7 linked regions of the Homo sapiens genome follow. The protein of the gene in region 1 purifies or fractionates together with the protein of each later gene. This does not show direct contact. Each region holds a gene or a part of one and is shown in the gene's direction. Other genes may lie near its edges.

Region 1 (3,500 bases):
GGGTTTTAACATCTGTGTCCTGCCACTTTGCTAGCCTAAATATGATTTTTAATGTATCTCAGCTTCAGTTTTCTCACCTGTTAAAAAAAAAACAATAACTTACAGCATTGTTGTAAGCTTAATAACCTGTATATATATATATTTTTAATTATCACTAGGATGGCAATATGTCTTAGTTTGTCTAGGATAATCCCACTTTAAACCTGCGGTTCAGGCATAATTATTAATAGTACCTTCTTTCATTCAAAAAGTCTCTTGGTTTAGGTGATAAATTACGTGATCATCCCATCATAGTGCCATGCGTAGAATTGTCATGTAAATGGCACTTTTACTCATTATTATTATTAATAGCTTGGCATTAATATGCTTAGTGGACCAAGTACAATCGGGCAATAAATATTTAATGAATGCCCACTATGTTTAAAGTGCTGTTCAGCTGATCTGCAAAGCTATGGCTGTAAAAACACCGAAGGGAATTTTAAGTATAATTAAAAGGAGATTGGAGAGTTAAGAAATAGTTGATGACAATGTGCTTCTTTATGCTTTTCTAGGCTTACCTTACAAATTTGAAGTACAGCAGATGTTAGAAGAACCTCAGTGGGGATTAGTATTTGAAAAGACAAGATGGATAATAGAAAAATACAGGCTCTCCCATAGGTATGTACTGTGGTTTGAGATGGTTGCACATCTGCAGTGTTGCTCATTAAATTATGTTTCAGAGAAAACCCAAGTTAAATATAAAATTGTGATGTATGGCATCCGTGATAGTTTATTATGAAACTGATTAGTTTATAGTATTCGTTTCACCAGTTTGTTTTCATATTTCTTCCTACAGCAGCGTCCCCATGGATAAAATCTTTCGCCGGGATTCTGACCTGACTTGTTTGCAGAAAGTAAGCTGTCTTCATTTTAATTGGTTCCATTGTTCACAGATTCTGAAGCTATTCATCTCAATGTGTTTTCCCATGATGCCTAATACTTTGTGGATAATTTTCTGTATATTTCTTTTATTACTTTTTCCTTTGGAAAATTAATTTCTAGGAGATAATTAGTAACGTTTTTTGTTGCCCAAGCTTGCACATAGAAAAAATTCTATTTTAGAATAAATTTGTCAGTGTTGGCTGATTTTAGCAGATTATTATTATACACAATGGAGAACATTTTTCTTATTTTATTAAATTTGAAAGTGCCATGTTTCCATTTTAGCCTTAACAATTGGTCATTTTTAAGAATGATGGTATAAATCTAACAATTAAATTTAAATAGTCATTTTATTTAACTTTCTAATAGGAAATAAGAGTTTTGAATTCTGTCAGTTCACGTCTAGGTTTTGCTTCTGTAATGATTGAAGGCTAGTAGATCTGCAACATTTGTCTTTTTAAATAGCAATTGGGGATAGAAAATTTAAACATTAAGTTTCTTTTTAATATGTTTTACTCCTTTCTGTTATATCCAGTTTTTTGTGTGTTGTTGAAAAAGTATGTGCACATTTCCAAGGAAATAGACTCCAGCTAGCATCCTCATTTTGAAATGCAGAATCCTATGTTTTTATGTACCTAGATTTTTGTGTGTGTGTATACTCAGGATTATTTTGCTTTGTAAGTGTAACTACAAATGGAGAAAAGTCGCAAATACGTCCGAAGTAGAAAGCATCACATAAACAATCTCAGGTTTGTCTCCTTATGTAAAATCATAAAAGTACTAAGCTGAGTGTTCCTCAGCAGCAATTTCCTACATTCCAGCTCTGTGACTATTAAACACAAGTTAATCTTCAACCATTTTTAAGGAGAGTGTTTCTCATTTGAGCATTAGGAAATGTGAGGTCTGGAAAGGGACGAAATAGTGATAGTAATGCAAACCCTCATACTTTTTCTGTATTTAAATATAAAACTTTTCTTTTCAACTAGCTTTTGGAGTGTATGAGGAAGACTCTGAGCAAAGTGACCAATTGCTTTATGGCTGAAGAATTCTTGACTGAAATAGAAAATTTGTTCCTTTCCAATTATAAAAGCAACCAAGAGAATGGAGTAACCGAAGAGAACTGTACAAAGGAATTGTTAATGTGATTATTTTAAAGTTAAGACATTTTAATCTTGACACAGTAGATCTTACTTTCAAAGTTATAAACTTGAAGTGATTGTAGTTAACATTGGCACAGCTTTGGTATTTTTTCTCTATTTCACAAAATCCAAACTTTGCCACATAAATCATGTGAAAAGGAAGAGATACAAATTTGTTTTCATATAGTGATTATCAGAGTGTTCTGCAAACCAGGGTCCACCACGGTGTTCTAGTCCTTTACTGAGCAATGCTGTAGGCTGTGAAACTAAGCAACCTGGTCGGCTTTACTGTTGTGTTCAGCTTGGGATTTGGACTATGTCTCTAAGTCATTTCTTCCCTGAACTAGTCATTTATGTTCCATTGTGGTATCTCCTATTTCATTTAAAAGCACTTCCATTCTTTCCATATATTCTGCTGAGATTTGTTTATGGCTATAAATGAGATATGGATGGGTGGTCACTGAGATAATTAATATGGTTTAGAACTACTGATTAATAAATCTAACAGGAGACCAGGAGAGGCATGACAAGAAAATCTTAAAAACAGGAAAAACCCAAAGGAGAGAACTAAATTACCAGTTTCTAATCATAGATACTATCTTCCATTTCATTGTATAGCAGTAGTATCATAAGATATGCCATTTTCTCAGCTATCTGAAAATTTTTAACCAATTTTACACACATAAAATAATTAGCTTCAATTGTGAGTCCACTTACATTAGTAGGTGTGATAAAACCTCATTTAACTGGAACATAGGTAATCATAACTCAAACTTTTTTTCTACTGCCTACTACTAGGAGAAAGAGGCAAATGATAATAAAGCTGGAATAAATCAGAGATTTAATTTTTAAAACAAGCCTTTCAGGACATGTTACATATTCAGCCCAGTTTCATATGCTTTCTGAATCTATAATGGAGGTCAGTGAACTTTTTTAATGTAAAGGGCCAGTTTGTAAATAATTTTGGCTTTTCAGGCCACATATGATGTCTATGAGACATTCTTCTTTGTGTGTGTGTGTGTGTGTGTGTGTGTGTGTGTGTGTTTTACAGCCCTTTAAAATGATAAAAACCATTGTTAACTCACAGGCCTCATAAAACATAGGCTGTTGGCTATTATTCTCCAACCCTTGATCTAGAGAATTTTAAACATTAGAATTTTGTTTTACATTTGTTAAGCTTTACGTCATCTTCAAATGACACCAAAACTCAGAATTATGATCTGCATTTAAGCCAATTTTAAAATAAAATAAGCAGTCAATGCTGCCTCATTTATTGAAATTCAGTAGATTTTAGTTTATTTCTTAGTAGTCAGAGAATTGATTTATAGCTATTCACCAAACATTCTTACTAACGTTTCCTTATATCTAAATCAGATTGATTCTATATTTTGCTTTGTTTGTAATCAATAGCCAATGAAGAATAAGGAGTATTGGAAGAAG
Region 2 (3,500 bases), on another chromosome or scaffold:
GCAAAAACCGCCAGGCACGGTGGCTCAAATGCCTGTAATCTCAGCACTTTGGGAGGCCGAGGCTGGCAGATCACCTGGGGTTGGGGGTTTGAGACCAGCCTGACCAACATGGAGAAACCACATCTCTACTAAAAATACAAAATTAGCCAGGTGTGGTGGCGCATACCTGTAGTCCCAGCTACCCTGGAGGCTGAGGCAGAAGAGTCTCTTGAACCTGGGAGGCGGAGGTCGCAGTGAGCTGAGATTGCGCCATGGCACTCCAGCCTGGGCAACAAGAGCGAAACTCCGCCTCAAAAAAAAAAAAAGAAAAAAAATGCAGAAACCTGTCTCAATGTTTAACTGGGCATTTTTCAAACTAGGGGACAAAAACTAGAACTTGCCACTTTTATTTAAAGTGATGCTCTTATTTTAGACCAATCTGACCTTCGTTGGCTGCGTGGGCATGCTGGATCCTCCGAGAATCGAGGTGGCCTCCTCCGTGAAGCTGTGCCGGCAAGCAGGCATCCGGGTCATCATGATCACTGGGGACAACAAGGGCACTGCTGTGGCCATCTGTCGCCGCATCGGCATCTTCGGGCAGGATGAGGACGTGACGTCAAAAGCTTTCACAGGCCGGGAGTTTGATGAACTCAACCCCTCCGCCCAGCGAGACGCCTGCCTGAACGCCCGCTGTTTTGCTCGAGTTGAACCCTCCCACAAGTCTAAAATCGTAGAATTTCTTCAGTCTTTTGATGAGATTACAGCTATGGTGAGCATGTTTGAACATGTACAGGTGACTCAGGCTACACAAGCACATAGTAGCCTCTAATTTTGACCACTGAATTTTTTTGTCATAGCTCCCTAATTTGGAATTTGTCATGATTTGGGTCTTTTCTCTAGAATTCGGTGAATCAGTGGTTAGCATGTTGTGTGCTACTTGCAGGGAAGATCCTAGAGTCGTTTAAAACCCAGAAGGGCCTTCCAGATCAGTCCCAGAGGAACAATCTGGTGATCTAGTCTCTTTTTTAAATGAGACGTGTTTTTATTGTAAGTTTTCTGAAAATTGAGGATGTAATCAGTCAGTTGTTTGGATCACCCTGCTTTTAAGTTCTTTAAGAGCTGGCTATTGATGAAGCATTTCCAGTATTCTTCCCCTCACCTGATTTTCACCCAGATACATTATGTTAAATTTACTTTCTTCTCTTTTAAAAAAAAATCTTAGTTTTGAAACATACTATAAGTGTACTCTCCTCTCCCCCAGAGGTAACTGAAGTTGGAATTTAGCAAAAATATTAAAAACATGGGAGTGCTGTTTTTGTGTCTGTAGACAGTATTATTTTTGCATGCTTTTGAAGGCATATTTTTTGGCCGAGTGCAGTGGCTCATGCCTGTAACCCCAACACTTGGGAGGCCGAGGCAGGTGAATCACTTGGGGTCAGGAGTTCAAGACCAGCCTGGCCAACATGGTGAAACCCCGTCTGTACTAAAAATACAAAAAATTGCTGGGTGTGGTGGTGGGCGCCTGTAATCCCAGCTACTCGGGAGATTGAGGCAGGAGAATCGCTTGAACCCAGGAGGCGTGCAGTGAGCCGAGACTGCGCCACTGCACTACAGCCTGGGCGACAGAGCGGGACTCCATCTCAGAAAAATAAAAATTTGCATATTTTTGCAATCTGCATCTTTCTACTTGAAATTTATCCATGTGGATACAAGTGCTTCCTCTTGACTGCCACATAGGTTGTGTTTTTGTTTTTAGTAAGATAATACAGATAAATTTGAAGTCCCCTTTGTCCCACTTCGGTAAACTTATTTGGTAATTTTACATTTCCTAGGTAAAATGTGTTTTGTGACACCAACTTATGAAACAAAAATTCTAAAACTCTTTGCCAAGAGACCTACGGCTCTATTCATTTTCCTCCTGCTTCCCATTCAGTGGGCTTTTGCCTAGGGGTATGAATGTGGCATGCCAGTTGGCTGACCCAACCATTGCTTTCCCTTTCAGACTGGCGATGGCGTGAACGATGCTCCTGCTCTGAAGAAAGCCGAGATTGGCATTGCTATGGGCTCTGGCACTGCGGTGGCTAAAACCGCCTCTGAGATGGTCCTGGCGGATGACAACTTCTCCACCATTGTGGCTGCCGTTGAGGAGGGGCGGGCAATCTACAACAACATGAAACAGTTCATCCGCTACCTCATCTCGTCCAACGTCGGGGAAGTTGTCTGGTAGGTCTCTGTGACAGCATCACTTACTGTACGCCTTTATCTAAATGGGTCATGGAGCCCAGTTCTCGCAGTTTGCTCTCCAGATTGCAGCAGCTTTGGTCTTTGTGCCTGAGTTGGAAGAGGGGAGTGGGCAAGACAGAAATGCCTTATGGAAGCAGTGGTGCTTTGGCCCTCGGGAGGGTTGTCTGCAGCTGCCCCAATGTGCAAAGAATCCTCTTTAACGTGAGACTGAGCTAACATTAACCAGGTAGTCACATGAAATTCTTGCCCTCCAAAAGTTGGCTTTATCTCAGTCAGCTTAATAATTTTTTTATTTTTATTTATTTTTTTGAGACAGTCTCGCTGTCGCCCAGGCTTCGGGCAGTGGCACGATCTCAGCTCACTGTCCCCTCCACCTCCTGGGTTCAAGCCTCCCGAACAGCTGGGATTACAGGCATGCGCCACCACTCCCTGCCATTTTTTTGTGTTTTAGTAGAAATGAGGTTTCACCATGTTGCCCAGGCTGGTCTCTTAACTGCTGAGCTCAGCCAGTCTGCCCACCTTGGCTTCCCAAAGTGCTGGGATTACAGGCATAAGCCACCGCACCTGGCCTCAGTCATCTGAATTTAAGTAATAAACTAAGTAAAATTGAGCTTTAATTCAAAATTGGGTATAAGTATTTTACAGATTACCTGAAGTTGTTGTCATTTATTTTTCTGGAGGAGGGCGGGTTGATGATGCTCTTTAAATAGTGGCCAGAAGTCATTTGGGCTCTCTTTGTCTTCTTTTCTTGATTGGAAACAGTATTTTCCTGACAGCAGCCCTTGGATTTCCCGAGGCTTTGATTCCTGTTCAGCTGCTCTGGGTCAATCTGGTGACAGATGGCCTGCCTGCCACTGCACTGGGGTTCAACCCTCCTGATCTGGACATCATGAATAAACCTCCCCGGAACCCAAAGGAACCATTGATCAGCGGGTGGCTCTTTTTCCGTTACTTGGCTATTGGCTGTGAGTACAATTTTTTTATATTACTGATTTTTAAACAAAATGTTTGTGAGCTGAAATTTTGTAAATTCATCCCTTAAAAGCGTGTTTTTTCTTCTATCCCCGTATAGGGTAGCAAAAGACAGAGATGCCCTCTTACAGTTCGATGAACTATACATCCAATTTACCAGAGTCCTTTCACAGTTAGTTCCAGTTTTAGCATCCTGCCCTTACTTGGGCTTTTCTGAATGAGCAATTAAACATCAGGGTTTTCAGATTGAGCCCTCTGTGCAAAGGGATAAGAATGATTCACGCTAGGTTCTGCCTTCCAAGAGT
Region 3 (3,500 bases), on another chromosome or scaffold:
GCACTCCTCTCGCAGCTGTACCACTCGCCAGCGCGACGGTTCGGAGGCCCCGTTCACCACCAGGCGCAGAGATTCAGGTGGGTCGGGAGGGTGCGCGCTCCTGAAAGCCATACTTAGCCCCGCTGGCAGGCGACGGCACAGCCACAGAATAGAAACCACGGGGATGATAGACTGATCCCGTCAGAGAGCGCGTTTCAGAATCATTCTGCAGCTCCACACCACAACCTCCATCAGAAAGGTGTCTGTAGGAAAGCCGTTTACTTCCGATTGGGCGTTGTCTTTCATGGGAATCAAAACAGTGACTCCAGGCTGGACACAGTGACTTATCCCTGTAATCCTAGCACCTTGGGTGGCTGAGAGAGGAAGATCGATTGAGCCCAGGAGTTCAAGACCAACCTGGGCAATATTGCGAGACCCCATCTCTACAAAAAATACAAAGCTGGCCAGGCATGGCGGTGCGCTCCTGTAGTTGCAGCAACTCAGGAAGCTGAGGTGGGAGGATTGCTTGAGCCCAGGAGGTTGAGGCTGCAGTGAGTTGTGATCATACCACTGCACTCCAGCCTGGGCCACAGGGCCAGAACCTGTCTTTTTTTGTTTTTATTAAAAAAAAAAAAAAGACAGCACCAGTCCCCACCAGTTGCTGTGAGCGTGAGCACTTAGAGCTTCAGCACGCAGTTCCTAGTAACAGCAGAACGGAGCCGCGAGCTTTAAAGATGGTTTCATGCCCAGTGTGGGGGAGCACACACCTGTAATCTCAGCTCTCAGGAGGCCGAGTTAGGAGGATTACTTGAAGCCCCGAGTTTGAGCAGCCTGGGCAACAAAGTGAGACCCCTGTTCCTACAAAAAGTAATGAAAAAAACTGGGCATGGTGATGCTGGCCTTTAGTCCCAGCTACTCAGGAGGCCATGGTGGGAGGATCGCTTGAACCCAGGAGGTGGAGGCTGCAGTGAACTATGATTGCACCACTGCACTGCAGCCTGGGTGATAGAGTGAGACCCTTTCTCTAAAAAATAAATGAATAATGAACGTCTCATATCTGTGGGAGAAAAGATGCTGCCTTAGGTATACTCGGGTGAGAGTAGATCTTCCAGCATTCTTAGACATTTGATCAGCAGCCCTAAGGCAAACCTTTTTCAAACACCTGCCTCGTGGAGTCATTTGTATTGGTGAATGTTGTATGTATGCATTCTGTTTATAAGCCCTGTCCTAGAGGGGAGGAGTTTTCCCGGATTCCTTAGTCTTTCCATCCTGAAAATGGTTCTGGCTGCCAGGATGAAGTGGGATAGAGGCGATGAGAGTCAGGGCCTTGGACTCCAGGATGTGGTGTGCTGTCGCCTCAGAAACAGCAGAGGTCTCAGTGTCAGGGCTGTTTTGTTTTTGTCAAAACCTCAAGGAGTGGCATCGAGGGCTTATCTCAGGTATGACAAGGATAGATTTCCCTTTTTTTTTTAATTTTTAATGTTTTTATTTTTTGTTGAGATGGGGTCTCACTGTGTTGCCCAGGCTGGTCTTAAACTCCTAGCCTCAAGTGATCCTCCTACCTCAGCCTCCCAACGTACTGGGATTATAGGCGTGAGCCCGGCCCCATCGTTGTTTTAACAGTGAAGCTGGGTGGGCGCTGCCCAGTGCCACACATGCTGCTGTGAGAGGTGTTATTCTCATGGCTGAGTTACCCAGCATTCTCAGCCTGGCTCAAATTCCAAAGCTGGCCTGCCTTCCTTGAGGTTTCTGGCTTGAAGACAAGGCTGGGGAAGCTTCTCTGGACGGAATGGAGCTGAATTTTAAAATCCAGCTCTAGAAATCCCATCATACAGTCGGTCCTGCTCTTGATGGGGCGGGCTATATGGGCGGTGGGGTTGGGTGAACTGCTCCTTAGCCTGGAAGGAAAACAGGGAAGGTTGGAGGAGACATGGGACTCTGGTCCCAGTAATGAGGACAAGAAAAGAAAGGGGAAACCGGAGAAGTGGACATTTCTGGTCGAGCAGGAAAAGTGAGTGGCAGGGCAACCACTAAGACAAAGTGATGGAAGGAAGTGGGGAGGGCGGGAGAGTCTGGAGGGAAAGATTCGCTCAGGAGGCTGAGAGAAGAGGAGGAAGAAAGACCCAGACTGCAGTGAGTTTGCAGTCAGTCCCTATCACGTCCAGAAAAGCCCAGAGATAAGGGATGGAAAAGAATTGGGTTGGAGGAAGAGAGGAGAAGATTTATGACTGTCAAGACCAGAGAAATCAGCAGGAGAAAAACTACCAACAAGAGTAATTCCTAAGAAGGCCGGGCGCATTGACTCACGCCTGTAATCCCAACGCTTTGGGAGGCCAAAGCAGGAGGATCACTTGAGCCCAGGAATTTGAGACCAGCCTGGACAACATAGACCCTTTCTTCTTAGTCTTTCCATCCTGAAAATGGTTTTACAAAAAATGTAAAAATTAGCCAGCATGGTGGCACACACCTGTGGTCCAGCTGCTCAGGAGGCAGGAGGATCACTTGAGCCTAAGAGTTTGAGACCATACTGGACAACATAGTGAGACCCTCTCTCAAAAATAAAGAAAATCACCGTTGGGCTAGTGAGCTGCCCCATGGCAGCTGGTGTCCTCTCGTGTCTGTCGAGAGGGTGAATCTGTTTAACAGCGCTTGAAGGCACTCGTTTACCCCGGCTGGGGCCTGCAGGGCTGCGCTTGGCTGATAGGGCCATAGCCTGAAGCCCAGTTTTATTTTGGAGCAGGTAATGCTTCTCTGCATGCATCACGCAGCTTCACAGATGCCGGCTTCACAAATGTATGCTACTCAGATATTCCCAAACTGACCCTCAGACCTTTACTTTTTTAATGTGAGAAAGTTCCAGAGGGAAACATAGCTTTAGGAACTGTTTTGTCATATACCTTAATCCTTATTACAGCATCTGTACATTTTCAGAAGGCTTTATTTTATTTTAGTTTAGTTTAGTTTTTGTTTTCTGAGGTTTTTGTTTTTTTCCTAGAGATGGGGTCTCTCTGTGTTGCCCAGGCTGGTCTCAAACTCCTGGCCTCAAGTGATCCTCCCACCTTGGCCTCTCAAAGTCCTGGGATTCCGTGCTTGAGCCACCATGCCTGGCCCAGAAAGGCTTATTTTTTATGTAAATAAAAGTATCACTGTGGAAAGAGCCCCACGTGTGTGGTCAAGTTTGGTGAGCCTGCCGTTGCTGGTGTCCCAGGGCCCTTCCCTGTCCCTTGAGTTCTCAGTCCTCAGTGGTTTGGCCCCTGACCCTCAGGGGATGTTGAGCTCTAGCCACAGAGGGTTGGTTGCCTGGTGCTTGGGAAGGAATTCTTGTGCCCTACAAGTGGCCCTGGCAAAGGCGTGCTCTAACCAGAGACCACTGGGCTGTCAACGCTTGGGGGCGGGTCATGATAAGGGGAAGGTGCAAAATTTGGAAAAAGGAGTTCAGCCCCTGCACGTACCCCACAGTACGAGGAGAGTTTCCTCCAGGGAGAACTGAGGCTGTCAGAGGCCTGCAGAGCATTTCTACC
Region 4 (3,500 bases), on another chromosome or scaffold:
GGGGAATCTGCAGCCTCACTGAACATGGAAGTCTTATCCTCTGCCTCTGTGTGTGAGGCCTTCCCACCATTTTGACTGTGTCTTGGCATTCCCTGTCTTATTTGTGTTGTAAATAATTTTCTCTTTGGGCATTATCTCAGATGTCCATTTTATGCTTACTATTTAATGCCCTTATTTGACATTATCTTGGGCGTTTAATAAACTGAATGTATATTATGGATGCATTGGTAGGTAGGGTTTTTGTGTGTGTGTATTTACTTGTTTGTTTTCGAGACAGGGTCTCACTCTATCACCCAGACTGGGGTGCAGTGGTGTGATCATGACTCACTGCAGCTTCGACCTCTGGGGCTCAAGTGATATTCCCAACTCAACCCCCTGAGTAGCGGGGACCACAGGCTTGTGCCACCACAACTGCTTAATTAATTTATTTTTTTATAGAGGGGTCTCACCAGGTTGCCCAGGCTTGTCTCGAACTCTTGGACTCAAGTGATCCTCCCAAAGTGCTGCGGTTACAGGTGTGAGCCACCATGCCCAGCCTATAATAAATTAGGCTGAGTGCCTGCCATCTTGCAGTTTGCACTTTAGTTAAGAGATAAGTGAAAAAAATATTTTGTTTTGTGGTAGAAAGCGTGTTCCAGATAAAGGAACAGCTCATATGAAGGCCTGAGGTAGGAGAAAGAGAGGATTTTAAAGGGTTAGAATGGAAGTCAGGTTGGTGAAAAGTATGTACTGAGTGAGAAAGGAAAAGGACTAAGGACGTAAAGGCCAGGTGATATCACCCATGATAAGAACATTATTCTGACCAGTACCAATAACTTTGTACTTATTACAGATAATCCACACTCATAAACTAGTCTTACAATGCCTCCAAACCAGAGGTGAAGCTGTCATTATAAAAGGTTAGAAACAGAAAAGTGGGTGCTCTGGAAAATTCAGAATATTTCCCAAGACTTCATTTCATCATGGTCTCCAAGATTATTTGAAGACTTCTATTCAAAAAAAGGACCCATTCTTAAAAATTCCCTAATTCTGCACTAAGTCTGCCTTTTCTTCTATTTTCGTATAATTTTTTTTTCCTTTCTTTGACTCCCATTCAGACTTGGAGAAAGTATAGCAGCAAACAATGCCTATAGACAACAGGAAACAGAACATATACCCAGAAAAATGCCCTGGCAATCATCAAATCACAGTTTTCCAACATCAATAAAGTGTTTAACTCCTCATTTGAAAGATGGTGTTCCTGGATTGAATATTGAAGAATTAATAGAGAAACTTCAGTCTGGAATGGTGGTGAGTGAAAAAATAGCAATTATAACCTGGTACATATTAGCTATATGTCAGTCCCAATTATAACGTGTATCTAAACACTGTCAGGTACAGATTTCACTATTGAAACCTTAATATAAGAAATAACAATATTCTGGAAAATTTGGAAATAAGAAAAATCAGTCAAAATTTCAACATTTTGCCGGGTGCGGTGGCTTACGCCTGTAATCCCAGCATTTTGGGAGGCCAAGGAGGGTAGATTGCCAGAGCTGAGGAGTTCAAGACCAGCTTGGGCAATATGGCGAAACCCCGTCTCTATTAAAAATACAAAAAATTAGCTGGACGTGTTGGCTCATGCCTGTTGTCTCAGCTACTCTGAAGGCTGAGGCAGGAGAATCACTTGAACCCAGGAGGCAGAGGTTGCAGTGAGCCAAGATCATACCACTTCACTCCAACCTGGGTGACAGTGAGACCCATCTCAAAAAAAAAAAAGAAATATTTGTGACTTACCTGATGTAGCATTTGTTTTTATTTTGTTACTCATCATTAAGTTTTAATGATTTAGTTTTGAAGTAGGCATTTATTTTGTCATTGTGTCAAAATATTTTATTAAAATTTTAAGTTTTTTTACTCTTAAAATGTAGGTAAAGGATCAGATTTGTGATGTGAGAATATCTGACATAATGGATGTATATGAAATGAAACTATCCACATTAGCTGTGAGTATAAGCTTATTTTAACAATGTGTAATAAGCTTTAATAGATGTATTCCTAAAATGAAAATTAATGATATGTTTTCTTGTAGTCCAAAGAAAGCAGGCTACAAGATCTTTTGGAAACAAAAGCTCTAGCCCTTGCACAGGCTGATAGACTGATTGCTCAGCATCGCTGTCAAAGAACTCAAGCTGAAACAGAGGTGTGTAGAATATAAAGACACATCTGATTTGTAGAAAAATTAATAAGTAAAACATGCAAAATATTAGTTATGTATTTGTTACTCTAATTGAAGTAAATTCTCCTTAGCATTTGACATGCCTCCTTCCTTCTTCCTGAAATTCTGTCCTCTTTAATTTTGGTTACATCGTTACCTGATTTTTTTTTGCTACCTTGTATTATTTTCCTATGTTATTTATTTTGTACCTTTAAGTGTTGGGGACTCTGGGACTTATATTCTAAACCTTTTTCCTTTAGTTATGTGTTCTGTGGTTTCAATGGTTACCAAAATAGTAATGTTCCTAATTTTATATGTCAAGCACAGATCATTTTCCTGAGCACTATGTGCCTATGTTGCTCCATTTAAATATACAGCAAATACCACAAACTCAGCATAACCAATAATGAACTAATCACCCTTCCCTTTTTAAAATTATTCTTATGTATTCCCTCTTCTGTTTTTAGTGTTCTACAAATAAGAACCCTGGAAATCACAGTTTTTACCTCCTATAATTATTCACCAAGTCCAGTTGATTCTACCTTCTAAATATTACTCTTTTCTGCCCTATCTCTGCTTCTACCACTATTTGTTATAGGCTGGATCCTTTTCATTTTTTGTATGAATCATAGCAGAGCAATTAGTCTTCCTACCTGTAGTCTTCTACCCTCTTCTCAGATACTCTACAGCCAGTCATCTTTCCTTGGTTCTACCCCCTTCACCTAGCCGCTCCCCCAAGGATCTCTAAGGCAGTAAAATGATCCTGTCCCTCTTGTGCTGAGTATCTTTCACAGTAGCTGCTATTGCTTTCAAATATCATTAAAATTCTTTAGTTTGGCATATAAGGATTCTAACTATATAGGCCTCAATCCACATCTTTCATTTCTGCGCATTCTTTGCAGTCAGCCATGTTAGGCCACTTTGCTTTTTCTGAAACTTGACATATTCTCGTATTTCCTTGTCGTGGCACTTGACTTTCCATGTCTGGAACACCATTTCCTCTCTTCTGCCTAACTCATAATCCTTCAGATTTCAGTTAAAATATCCTCATTACCCAGAAGCCTACTCTGGTCTCCTTCCCACACGTGTTTGACGATCCTTCCTCTGTGTATCAAACCTACGCTTATCTCTTAATAACATTTTTCAAACCACGTGGAAATTCTTTTTTCCCTCACTCATGGTATCAAAGACTGCTTCTATAGCTCCAGGCCCTAGCATAGCACTTGGCACATAATAGGTGCTCAGTAAATTTGGCATTGTATTATGTACATATATAATGTATACCTTAAGAGTGAACTTACTG
Region 5 (3,500 bases), on another chromosome or scaffold:
AAAAATGCAAAAAATTAGCCAGGTGTGGTGGCATGCGCCTGTAGTCCCATCTACTCGGGAGGCTGAGGCAGGAGAATCGCTTGAACTTGGGAGGCGGAGGTTGCAGTGAGCCGAGATTGCGCCACTGCACCCCAGCCTGGGCGAGAGAGCGAGATTGTCTCAAAAAAAAAAAAAAAAAAAAAGTTTGATGAATGGATGAAAGCTGGTATCAGAAGCTATTTCTTAACTTTGGGAAATCTTTAAGTCTAGTCGAAATAGTTCAGATATCATCTAGGAGTTCTTATGTTCTGATTTCAGTGCTCTTGAGACAAAAACTTGGAGTTTACACAGGTCACGAGCCAGCTGCACCAAGAAAACTCAGTACGGGCGTACTCTGCTTTTGTTTCTTTAAATTGTATTGGTCTGTTTGGTTAGCTGTGCTAAAAATAGCATCTCTTAGTGATATTTCAATTTGAAAATTATCTAAGAACAAAGCTGTTTTTACTGCACTCTGCCTGGCAGCAGAGGGTTTGGGAGACCCTGGTCTTCCTTCCCCTGGACGCTGAAGAGGAGGAGGTAGTGCCAGATCAGGAGTCCCCTCAGAGGTGTCTCATAGCACATTCTTGGATCATTCACTGGAATCAGGTAGAGGGAGTATGTGTGGCCGACTGGGATGTGTGACTCTCAAAAGCACCTGGAGATTGAGGCAGGCACGTTCCTGCAACATATGTAAGGAAAGATGGCTGAGTAGCCAGTTACAGCAACAGCCTGCTTCTCCTGGGGGGATGAGGTGGGAGCAGTGAGTTGTCCTCAAGTGAGGATATCCTTAGATGAGGCTTAAATCAACTGATGTGCTTAACTGAATTCCTACAGTGTCCCACACAGATTGTACTAGAGCACATATTTGGGTTCCTATTGTTATTTTTACCTGTGATAATAAAGTTTCTGACTGTAAAACAGAACCTGCAGATATCTTTTTAACAGAGATGTTAGTATATTCCATTTTTCATCTTGAGCCACTCACTTTCAGTCTTAACTGCTTATTCTTGGTATCCAACAGCCAATGGAACCCTGGCATTTTGCCCTATAAACACAGGAGTACCATCTGTGGTGAAAGAGAGTAACTATAGGCTATATAATACATGGAGAAACAATTCATGGTTTGTTTGCTTTGCCATTCTGCTTCCTAGTGCTTTTTTAGGAATGTATTGTGAAAGTGAGAATAGGCTGTATAGCCAGAGATTTGTATTCATGGCACAAAGCAGAAAGCTGCTACCATCTTGGTGGTAGGGCAGCATGCTCTCTGGTATTAGCAAGGGACAGGGAAAACCAAGACAAGAAAGCCAGCATCCCCTTTGAAATGCTCATTTAAGTCAAGCTCCAGATTATACTTAAAGAAAAGTCATGGCCAGACGTGGTGGGTCGTGCCTGTAATCCCAGCACTTCAGGAGGCCAAGGCAGGTGGATTGCTTGAGGCCAGGAGTTTGAGACCAGCCTGGCCAGCATGGCAAAACCCCGTCTCTACTAAAAATATAAAAATTAGCAAGGCATGGTGGCACATGCCTGTAATCCCAGCTACTCGGGAGGCTGAGGCACAAGAATCACTTGAACTTGGGAGGCAGAAGTTGCAGTGAGCAACCTCTGCCTCTGCACTCCAGCCTGGGTGACAGAGCGAGACTGTCTCAAAAAAAATAAATAAATAAAGAGGAGGAGTCATAACATCCATTAGTTTCAAGGTCCTGGGCTGTGCCAGGGAGATACATGATAGCTACTGGATATTTATTTTTTGAGATGGAGTCTCAGTGTTACACAGGCTGGAGTGCAGTGGCGTGATCTCGGCTCACTGCAACCTCTGCTTCCTGGGTTCAAGCGATTCTCCTGCCTGAGCCTCTGGAGTAGCTGGTGCTACAAGCATGTACCACCACGCCCAGCTAATTTTTTTTTTTGAGACAGAGTCTTGCTGTTGTCTGCCCGGGCTGGAGTGTGATGGCATGATATCGACTCGCTGCAACCTCCACCTCCCAGGTTCCAGCAATTCTCCTGCCTCAGCCTCCCGAGTAGCCACCACACCCGGCTAATTTTTTTGTATTTTTAGCAGAGACAGGGTTTCACTGTATTAGCCAGGATGGTCTCGATCTCCTGACCTCGTGTTCCGCCCGCCTTGGCCTCCCAGAGTGCTGGGATTACAGGTGTGAGCCACCGCACCCGGCCAATTTTTGGGTTTTTAATAGAGACGGGGTTTCACCATGTTGGCCAGGCTGGTCTCGAACTCCTGACCTCAGGTGATCCACCCACCTCAGCCTCCCAAAGTGCTGGGATTACAGGCGTGAGCCACTGTGCCCGGCCTTTTTTTTTTTTTTTTTTTTTTAAGACAGAGTCTTCCTCTGTCAACCAGGCTGGAGTGCCAGCGGCATGATCTCAGCTCACTGTAACCTCTGCCTCCTGGATTCCAGCGGTTCTCCTGCCTCGGCTTCCTGAGTACAGGCGCGCACCACCATGCCCAGCTAATTTTTATATTTTTAATAGAGATGGGGCTTCACCATGTTGGCCAGGCTGGTGTCAAACTCCCAGCCTCAGGTGATACGCCCACCTCAGCCTCCCAAAGTGCTGGGATTACAGGCATGAGCCACCATGCCTGGCCAGCTATTTAGATATTTTATCAGTTATTCATCAGTCCCACTGTATATTAAATGGCAAGAGAGAATCCCACCAATTCTAGTCTTCTAGTCCTTTTATGTTGTTCCCAAACCAGTCCTGCGTCAAATATGTGTGGAAAATGGCTGAGAATGGACAGGATAGCTAAGCAACTCGCTGTGCATTACACAGAGATACCAAATCCTACTGGACAGAAGAAATAATATAAGGACATCCTCAGATGAGGCTTAAATCAGCCAATGTGCTTAATTGAACTCCCACAATCTACTTGGCACTAGAGGGAGGACAGATTCAAAATAAGTAGACATAGTCTTTGCACATAGGGAATACACAGCTTAACGTGGGAAGCAGTAAATACACAGACTTATAAAAGAAGAAAAACTCGACAAGGTAGTAAGTGCCACATTGAGTGGTTAAGGTCATTCAAAGTAAGGCCTTGATGTGGCATGCCAGGAAATAATAGGTGTAACACTGGGATCAGCTTTTGAACCAGGACTTCAGCATGACAGCCGAGCAAAGAAGCAAATCAAAGGACAGTGTACCTGTGTTCTGGGGCAAGGCATATTGGCTAGTTATATCTTTTTCAGCCACCACTATACTCACAGTTGGTAAGCATTTAATCAGCAATAGTTTCAGTCATAAAGGACAGCAAGATAAATGTGTGGCATAAATTTAATTCAGAATCTGGGCCAAAGCCTGATACCAAACCTTTAAAGCAAAGTGTCATCTGGAGCTGAAGGAAAGGCTGCCTGAGCAAGAGGCAGAATAAAGGCTAGAAGACTAGGAAGACTTGGGAAAGGTTTAAATTTCATGAGGTGTTAGTAGTATGACCAAAAGTCACTACTACAAATTGCCAAGGTTGGTGA
Region 6 (3,500 bases), on another chromosome or scaffold:
GGTGTTTCTTTTCCGGAAGACGGTTAGAAACCGGAAGAGTCACATTGCTCTCAGGCTGAAAACCTCTGTCCCTCATTTGCTATGGGTGCTTCTGTTAAGACCTGGGTGGGGCCGACCCTGCAGCTGCCTGGCCAGAAGTCCAGGTCACAGAGCATGGCATCTGCTGGTGCTTCGTGCGGGTCCCCAGCGTATTTGCTTGTCAAGTCAGAGCTCCTAATTATTACCTCTGTTGTCCTGTCTCAGCCACCGCCACCATGTGCTCCATGACCAGAATGTGGACAAGAGAACCTGCATCCCCATGAACCATCTCTGGCCCAATCAGGCCCCCTATACTGTGTGCAACAGCTCACTGTCTGAGTACGGCGTGCTGGGTGAGTGCCTGGAGCCACACCACCAGGGCCTGTCACCCACCCACCCCCGCTGGGCCTACTGGCTGGTGTCCTGGACATGGTTTTCTCCTTCCTTTGTCCCTTGTAGGCTTTGAGCTGGGCTTCGCCATGGCCAGTCCTAATGCCCTGGTCCTCTGGGAAGCCCAATTTGGTGACTTCCACAACACGGCCCAGTGTATCATCGACCAGTTCATCTGCCCGGGACAAGCCAAGTGGGTGCGGCAGAATGGCATCGTGTTGCTGCTGCCCCATGGCATGGAGGGCATGGTGAGCCTCTGGCCCTTCCCTGCCAGACCTAGGACTTGGGAAGGGCCTGTGTAGGACCCTGACCCCAAAGACTGGCACGAGAGCCAGTGGCTCACACCAGCCTCCTAAGGACTCTGCTGGTGCTTCCCATCCATCTCAGATGGGATGTCACTTCAGAAAGCCAGAGTAGCCCATCTGGATGTGGCTAGCATGCCCCGTCCCTGCTGGTGCAGACTCCCTAGATGCACAGGCGTCCAAGTGTGGAAATGATGAGCCAAGTGCTTTGCTGGTGGGAGGGGGAAGGAACTGAACCCTGCCATCAAGAAAAAAGATAACCAGAAATGAGCTAGTTGGTTGAGGAGGAACAGCAGATGCGGCAAATGTCAGTACGCAAGAGCTCTTAAACTGTAACTTGCGTGTGTGGTTCCAGGGTCCAGAACATTCCTCCGCCCGCCCAGAGCGGTTCTTGCAGATGTGCAACGATGACCCAGATGTCCTGCCAGTGAGTAATACAGGCCCTGTCAGCCCAGCCATTCTCGGGGTGTCTGGTGGGAAACCTGGGGAAGAGCAATCTATCTGGTCATCCTGAAGTGGCAGACCGTGCCTCTGTCCCTTTCTCCATCCTGGGGAGCTCACGTGAGTGGACAGGTGTGGCCCCATGCTTCTGGGCGCCCTGGGATGAGAGACTTCCTCAGAGCACAGAGGAAGGTGCAGGGACTGCCTCCATTGGCTTCCTGCTGTTGCTGCAAGCACAGAAACGCCATGTGAGCTCCTCAGCAAGGGCTCCTGCGGGATGCTTCCAGACCCTGATTCAGGTCTGGAAGCCCTGAGGAGGAGAGAACTTTGGGGCGATTCCAGTGAAACTTTAAGAACTCAAAGAACCAGCCTGGGCAACATGGTGAGACCCCGTCTCTACAAAAATTTTAAAAAGTAGCTGGGCGTGATGGTGCACGCCTGCAGTCCCAGCTACTTGGGAGGCTGAGGTGGGAGGATTGCTTGAGCTTGGGAGGTCAAGGCTGCAGTGAGCCAAGATCGTGCCACTGCACTCCAACCTGGGTGACAGAGCAATACCCTGTCTTAAAAAAAAAAAAAAAAAGAACTGTGCTGGGTGTGGTGGCTCAAGCCTGAAATCCCAGCACTTTGGGAGGCCCAGGCAGGCGGATCATGAGGTCAGGAGTTTGAGACCAGCCTGGCCAATATGGTGAAACCCTGTCTTTACTAAAAATACAAAAACTAGCTGGGCATGGTGGCGCCCACCTGTAATCCCAGCTAGTCTGAGGCTGAGGCAGGAGAATTGCTTAAACCCGGGAAGCAGAGGTTGCAGTGAGCCAAGATTGTGCCGCTGCACTCCAGCCTGGGCAGCTCCGTCTCACAAAAAAAGAACTGGCCAGGCGCAGTGGCTCACGCCTGTAAGCTCAACACTTTGGAGGCCCAGGCAGGTGGATCACGAGGCCAGGAGTTTGAGACCACCCTGGCCAATATAGTGAAACCCCGTCTCTACTAAAAATACAAAAATTATTCAGGCGTGGTGGCGGGCACCTGTAGTCCCAACTACTCAGGAGGCTGAGGCAGAGAATCGCTTGAACCCGGGAGGTGGAGGTTGCAGTGAGCCAAGATTGCGCCACTGCACTCCAGCCTAGGCGACAGAGGGAGACTCCTGTCTCAAAAAAAAAAAAAAAAAAAAAAAACTCAAAGAAAATGATTAGGTGTCAGTGTCTAAGGAAAATTGGTTTTAGGTAGAACTTGTGTCTCTTAAAGTGGTATTTGTTTCATGCTGGGCAATAGCTTTCAGAGAAATAGTATGGATTGAGTGGGACTGAGGCTCTCCTCCAGGGTATGAGGCTGGCCGAAGGAGCTTGCTGGACTCACTTGTTAGTGTCAGCTTATGTCTCCTGGGGAGTCAGTGTGTTAGGCCATTCTTGTGTTGCTATAAAGAAAAACCTGAGACTGGGTAATTTATAAAGAAAAGTTTAATTGGCTCACAGTTCTGTAGGCTGTACAGGAAGCATGATGCTGGCATCTGCTCAGCTTCTGGGGAGGCCTCAGGAAGCTTACAATCATGACAGAAGATGAAGTGGGAGAGCAGGCATGTCACATGGCCAGAGCAGGAGTAAGAGAGTGGGGGAGAGGGGCCACACACTTTCAACAACCAGATCTCGTGTGAACTCAGAGTGAGAGCTCACTCATCACCAAGGGGATGGCCCAAGCTCTAATCCTAACACCTCCCACCAGGCCCCACCTCCAGCAGTGGGAGATTACAATTCAACATGAGATTTGGGCAGGGACAAATATCCAAACTAGATCACCTGAGGGCCCCCACATGCCCCAGAAGACTCAGTGCTGTGTCCTGGCCTCTGGCCATTTCCTTCCCTGCTGCAGGACCTTAAAGAAGCCAACTTCGACATCAATCAGCTATATGACTGCAATTGGGTTGTTGTCAACTGCTCCACTCCTGGCAACTTCTTCCACGTGCTACGACGCCAGATCCTGCTGCCATTCCGGAAGCCGGTCAGTGGCAGGGCCTCCCTTGCTCAAACGAGGCCTGGCCCTGCCCTGTTGGTGCAGGGAAGGGCTCCTCAGAGAGCCTCTTGCTTGGGGTTAGCTAGGTGGGCACCTGCAGGGGTAGTGTGGACAGGACATGGTGTCAGGGAGCCTCGCCCTTCCTCCTCACTGCTGCCATGAGGGAACTGCGTGTTCTGTGTGTCCTCTTCCCCGACTGGGCCCCTGCATACTGCTGAGCACCACATGCGGAGCAATCACATAGGCTGCAGGCCCCAGCCCGGTGGGGAGGACGGATGTTTGAACAGGTGGTCATAGGGGGTGTGCTGAGCTCTGGAAGAGAGGTGAGCCCTGGCAGAGGCCAAG
Region 7 (3,334 bases), on another chromosome or scaffold:
ATGTTTATATCTGCTGCAACACTGAGTTCATGGCTTTTCACACATAATTGCTCAACAGAGCAGGTGCCATGGAAAGTCAATTCAATGAGTAAAATTACCTCAAAATAGTCTGTTAATTCACTCACCTTTGAAGTAGACAGATTATTCTGCATTGATACTTATCTCTTACTCTTAAAATTCGCTATGTATTAATAAATATTTTATTGAATATTAAGGAATGATCACTATTTTAATAAGATGTTCTTTACCATATATTTCTATATGTACATGATAATTAGAAGTATCAAATTATATTGTGGAATGTAAAAGCTTTTCTTCTGAAGCCAAGCATTTGTTTTATTGTCATTTCAGTGGCAAATATGGACTTCATATTCAAAATGATGTTCTATATTATTTTTCCTTACAAGCTTTTTGAAAAACAATTTAATAATTCCATGATTGTTGTAGCACCACTGAATTGATTCTGAAAGCTTACTTTTTAAATAAAAATTGACCTTTATCAAGCATTCCTTGAGGGCCCATGATTGATTAACTTCTTGGCAGGTTATTAAGACTTATTCTTTCACACTGTATTAATGAAGCTTTATATTGGCATGGAGCTCTAACCACTGTGTCCTTTCTGCAAAGGTATATCTATGTTGCTGACATATTGGCTCATGAAATTCATGTTTTGGAAAAACACACTAATATGAATTTAACTCAGTTGAAGGTAAAATATTTATTTTTACATATAGACAGTAATCTATTATGCTTTGCAATGACATAGTTTTTCTATAAGAGTACCACACGTAGAACAAAATATGGATGCCAGTGTAGCTATTCTGGGTTTTTAAATACTCCCTACAACTAGAGAAAGCTCCTGTTTCCAGCGATCTCAAGAACTGACCATGATTACATGCAGCAGCAGGTTGAGAGTGATATTCATCAGATTTAGGGCCCATTCCATGAAGTATTGATGGCAGTGGAAGAATTCCAATAAGAATTTTCACAATTGAAAATACTAATAGATGAATTCTCAAATGAAGGTTTATGCACAGTGTCAGTTCTTTCAATAATACATGAAGGTAGAAATTGGGTTCCACACCATTATTATTTTCTTCCTACTCAACAACACATATTTTAGGTTGATTAAGAATTTCCTATCTTGCTTTGATTGAGTTCCTTGAGCTAACTGATCATTGTGCATCTTTTAAAGGAAAAGGAGTTCAGTTTTTAAGATAGATTTTTACAGAGACCGATTATCACCCTAACTTTCTTAATTTCAGGGAAGAAGAAAAGTGGCTCCAAACCAGTTTTTAATACATTCCTTTTAAGCAATATTGGTGTTAGAAGGTGGAAGCAGGGCGATGTGTAATTTCCTCACATGCATAGAGGCAGGAAGGTTACCTCTAAATTATTTAATCAAGTTTCTCATGTCATTTAGATTTTGACAATTTCTCATTTGGAAGGTACTTGAGCTGGATACACTGGTGGATAATTTATCTATTGATCCTTCCTCGGGGGACATCTGGGTAGGCTGTCATCCTAATGGCCAGAAGCTCTTCGTGTATGACCCGAACAATCCTCCCTCGTCAGAGGTTTTTATATTTTCAGTTTTTTAAACTTAATTATTCAAGTCCTTTTGAACTAATAATACAATAAATTGTCACAGGGATGATTTGTTTAGTTATTTTAAAGCAATAATATAATAAGCTTATGTCGTGGTTTTGTAATTGCGTTAAGCCAATAATTGGCAGAATGTTACATTGTTCAAATACTTTAAGAAAGGTAATCTTTTGATGTATTAAATTATGGTGGAAACTAGTCAAAAGGCATTTTTATAAAGACATGTGCCCTTCTTGGGTGGTATACTGGCAATTTTTAAAATATCTGATTTATTGTCAGCTCACCACATGATGTGATATTTGTTCATGTTGAAGTAGTGTGAAAGTAGGCACATTAGTATGAAAGTATTTCTATTAAAGCTGAATTGCTATAATAACACTAAATCCTGTGTTGGCATGGAATAACTAGATGGTTTTAAGAAAGTACTTTCTTTGAAGATTGGAGAAAGTACTTTAATTTAAACATTAAAAAGATTGGTAACTGCTATTTTCAACAGCATGTCCCCTTAATCAGTGTGTCATTGTGGAAAACAGGGCTTATTGATGATTGAGTGACATGCATGTACGGTGGTCTTATATTCATACTTTGTATCCCCTGAATAGGTTCTCCGCATCCAGAACATTCTATCTGAGAAGCCTACAGTGACTACAGTTTATGCCAACAATGGGTCTGTTCTCCAAGGAAGTTCTGTAGCCTCAGTGTATGATGGGAAGCTGCTCATAGGCACTTTATACCACAGAGCCTTGTATTGTGAACTCTAAATTGTACTTTTGGCATGAAAGTGCGATAACTTAACAATTAATTTTCTATGAATTGCTAATTCTGAGGGAATTTAACCAGCAACATTGACCCAGAAATGTATGGCATGTGTAGTTAATTTTATTCCAGTAAGGAACGGCCCTTTTAGTTCTTAGAGCACTTTTAACAAAAAAGGAAAATGAACAGGTTCTTTAAAATGCCAAGCAAGGGACAGAAAAGAAAGCTGCTTTCGAATAAAGTGAATACATTTTGCACAAAGTAAGCCTCACCTTTGCCTTCCAACTGCCAGAACATGGATTCCACTGAAATAGAGTGAATTATATTTCCTTAAAATGTGAGTGACCTCACTTCTGGCACTGTGACTACTATGGCTGTTTAGAACTACTGATAACGTATTTTGATGTTTTGTACTTACATCTTTGTTTACCATTAAAAAGTTGGAGTTATATTAAAGACTAACTAAAATCCCAGTTTTGTCTGTGTTTAATTCTGAAGGCATATGGCTAGGAGAAATGGGAAAGCAGCTGCTTCCTTATGGAGTTTGGATAGGCAAGCATGGCCATATTAATTTCTCTTGTGGAAAGCTGAAAGTGAATGGACTCTTAATTTGAAACAACAACAACAAAAATCAATGAAATATTGCAACTCAAATTCCCAGTTCCTAAGGAGGTTTCCATCAGCTCTCTTCCTTAATGGGAGTCCACTTTAGAGACAAAGAGGAAATAAGGGTTGGGACAGGAAGGTCTTGCCACCTCCTCATTGAACAGAACTGTGAACTAAAGCCAGGAGAATGAAGTCAGTCGTCCGTGACCACATGGTTAAGCAGCAGCAATGCTAGGATCAGGGCCGCGTGCCCAGCTCACAGAGGGAGAGTTTTTCTGCTCACTGTACCTCCTATAAAATCATCATAAGCCCTAGAGAGAGACTTTCATGTGTTTCTTTCCATTGTAATTTATCAAACCACTTTACT

Evidence for each region.
Region 2: the proteins of MYSM1 (region 1) and ATP2A2 purify together in Homo sapiens (affinity purification with mass spectrometry, with the first as the bait; one large-scale study listed by BioGRID). This does not show direct contact.
Region 3: the proteins of MYSM1 (region 1) and ELAVL1 purify together in Homo sapiens (affinity purification with mass spectrometry, with the first as the bait; one large-scale study listed by BioGRID). This does not show direct contact.
Region 4: the proteins of MYSM1 (region 1) and CIP2A purify together in Homo sapiens (affinity purification with mass spectrometry, with the first as the bait; one large-scale study listed by BioGRID). This does not show direct contact.
Region 5: the proteins of MYSM1 (region 1) and ARF3 purify together in Homo sapiens (affinity purification with mass spectrometry, with the first as the bait; one large-scale study listed by BioGRID). This does not show direct contact.
Region 6: the proteins of MYSM1 (region 1) and OGDH purify together in Homo sapiens (affinity purification with mass spectrometry, with the first as the bait; one large-scale study listed by BioGRID). This does not show direct contact.
Region 7: the proteins of MYSM1 (region 1) and PON2 purify together in Homo sapiens (affinity purification with mass spectrometry, with the first as the bait; one large-scale study listed by BioGRID). This does not show direct contact.

What each region holds. Positions count from the first base shown.
Region 1 is NC_000001.11:58,658,563-58,662,062, reverse strand, and holds part of MYSM1 (deubiquitinase MYSM1), read left to right. Parts: intron 1-551; coding exon 552-657; intron 658-835; coding exon 836-893; intron 894-1,907; coding exon 1,908-2,066; 3' UTR 2,067-3,500. UniProt on the Homo sapiens protein: Metalloprotease with deubiquitinase activity that plays important regulator roles in hematopoietic stem cell function, blood cell production and immune response.
Region 2 is NC_000012.12:110,340,247-110,343,746, forward strand, and holds part of ATP2A2 (sarcoplasmic/endoplasmic reticulum calcium ATPase 2), read left to right. Parts: intron 1-412; coding exon 413-748; intron 749-1,981; coding exon 1,982-2,202; intron 2,203-2,985; coding exon 2,986-3,188; intron 3,189-3,500.
Region 3 is NC_000019.10:7,964,142-7,967,641, reverse strand, and holds part of ELAVL1 (ELAV-like protein 1), read left to right. Parts: coding exon 1-77; intron 78-3,500. UniProt on the Homo sapiens protein: RNA-binding protein that binds to the 3'-UTR region of mRNAs and increases their stability.
Region 4 is NC_000003.12:108,558,439-108,561,938, reverse strand, and holds part of CIP2A (protein CIP2A), read left to right. Parts: intron 1-1,097; coding exon 1,098-1,290; intron 1,291-1,910; coding exon 1,911-1,985; intron 1,986-2,071; coding exon 2,072-2,182; intron 2,183-3,500.
Region 5 is NC_000012.12:48,943,988-48,947,487, reverse strand, and holds part of ARF3 (ADP-ribosylation factor 3), read left to right. Parts: intron 1-3,500.
Region 6 is NC_000007.14:44,697,127-44,700,626, forward strand, and holds part of OGDH (2-oxoglutarate dehydrogenase complex component E1 isoform 1 precursor), read left to right. Parts: intron 1-243; coding exon 244-371; intron 372-477; coding exon 478-656; intron 657-1,065; coding exon 1,066-1,137; intron 1,138-3,014; coding exon 3,015-3,143; intron 3,144-3,500. UniProt on the Homo sapiens protein: 2-oxoglutarate dehydrogenase (E1o) component of the 2-oxoglutarate dehydrogenase complex (OGDHC). Participates in the first step, rate limiting for the overall conversion of 2-oxoglutarate to succinyl-CoA and CO(2) catalyzed by the whole OGDHC.
Region 7 is NC_000007.14:95,404,362-95,407,695, reverse strand, and holds the end of PON2 (serum paraoxonase/arylesterase 2), read left to right. Parts: intron 1-627; coding exon 628-709; intron 710-1,448; coding exon 1,449-1,577; intron 1,578-2,207; coding exon 2,208-2,366; 3' UTR 2,367-2,834; downstream 2,835-3,334. UniProt on the Homo sapiens protein: Capable of hydrolyzing lactones and a number of aromatic carboxylic acid esters. Has antioxidant activity. Is not associated with high density lipoprotein.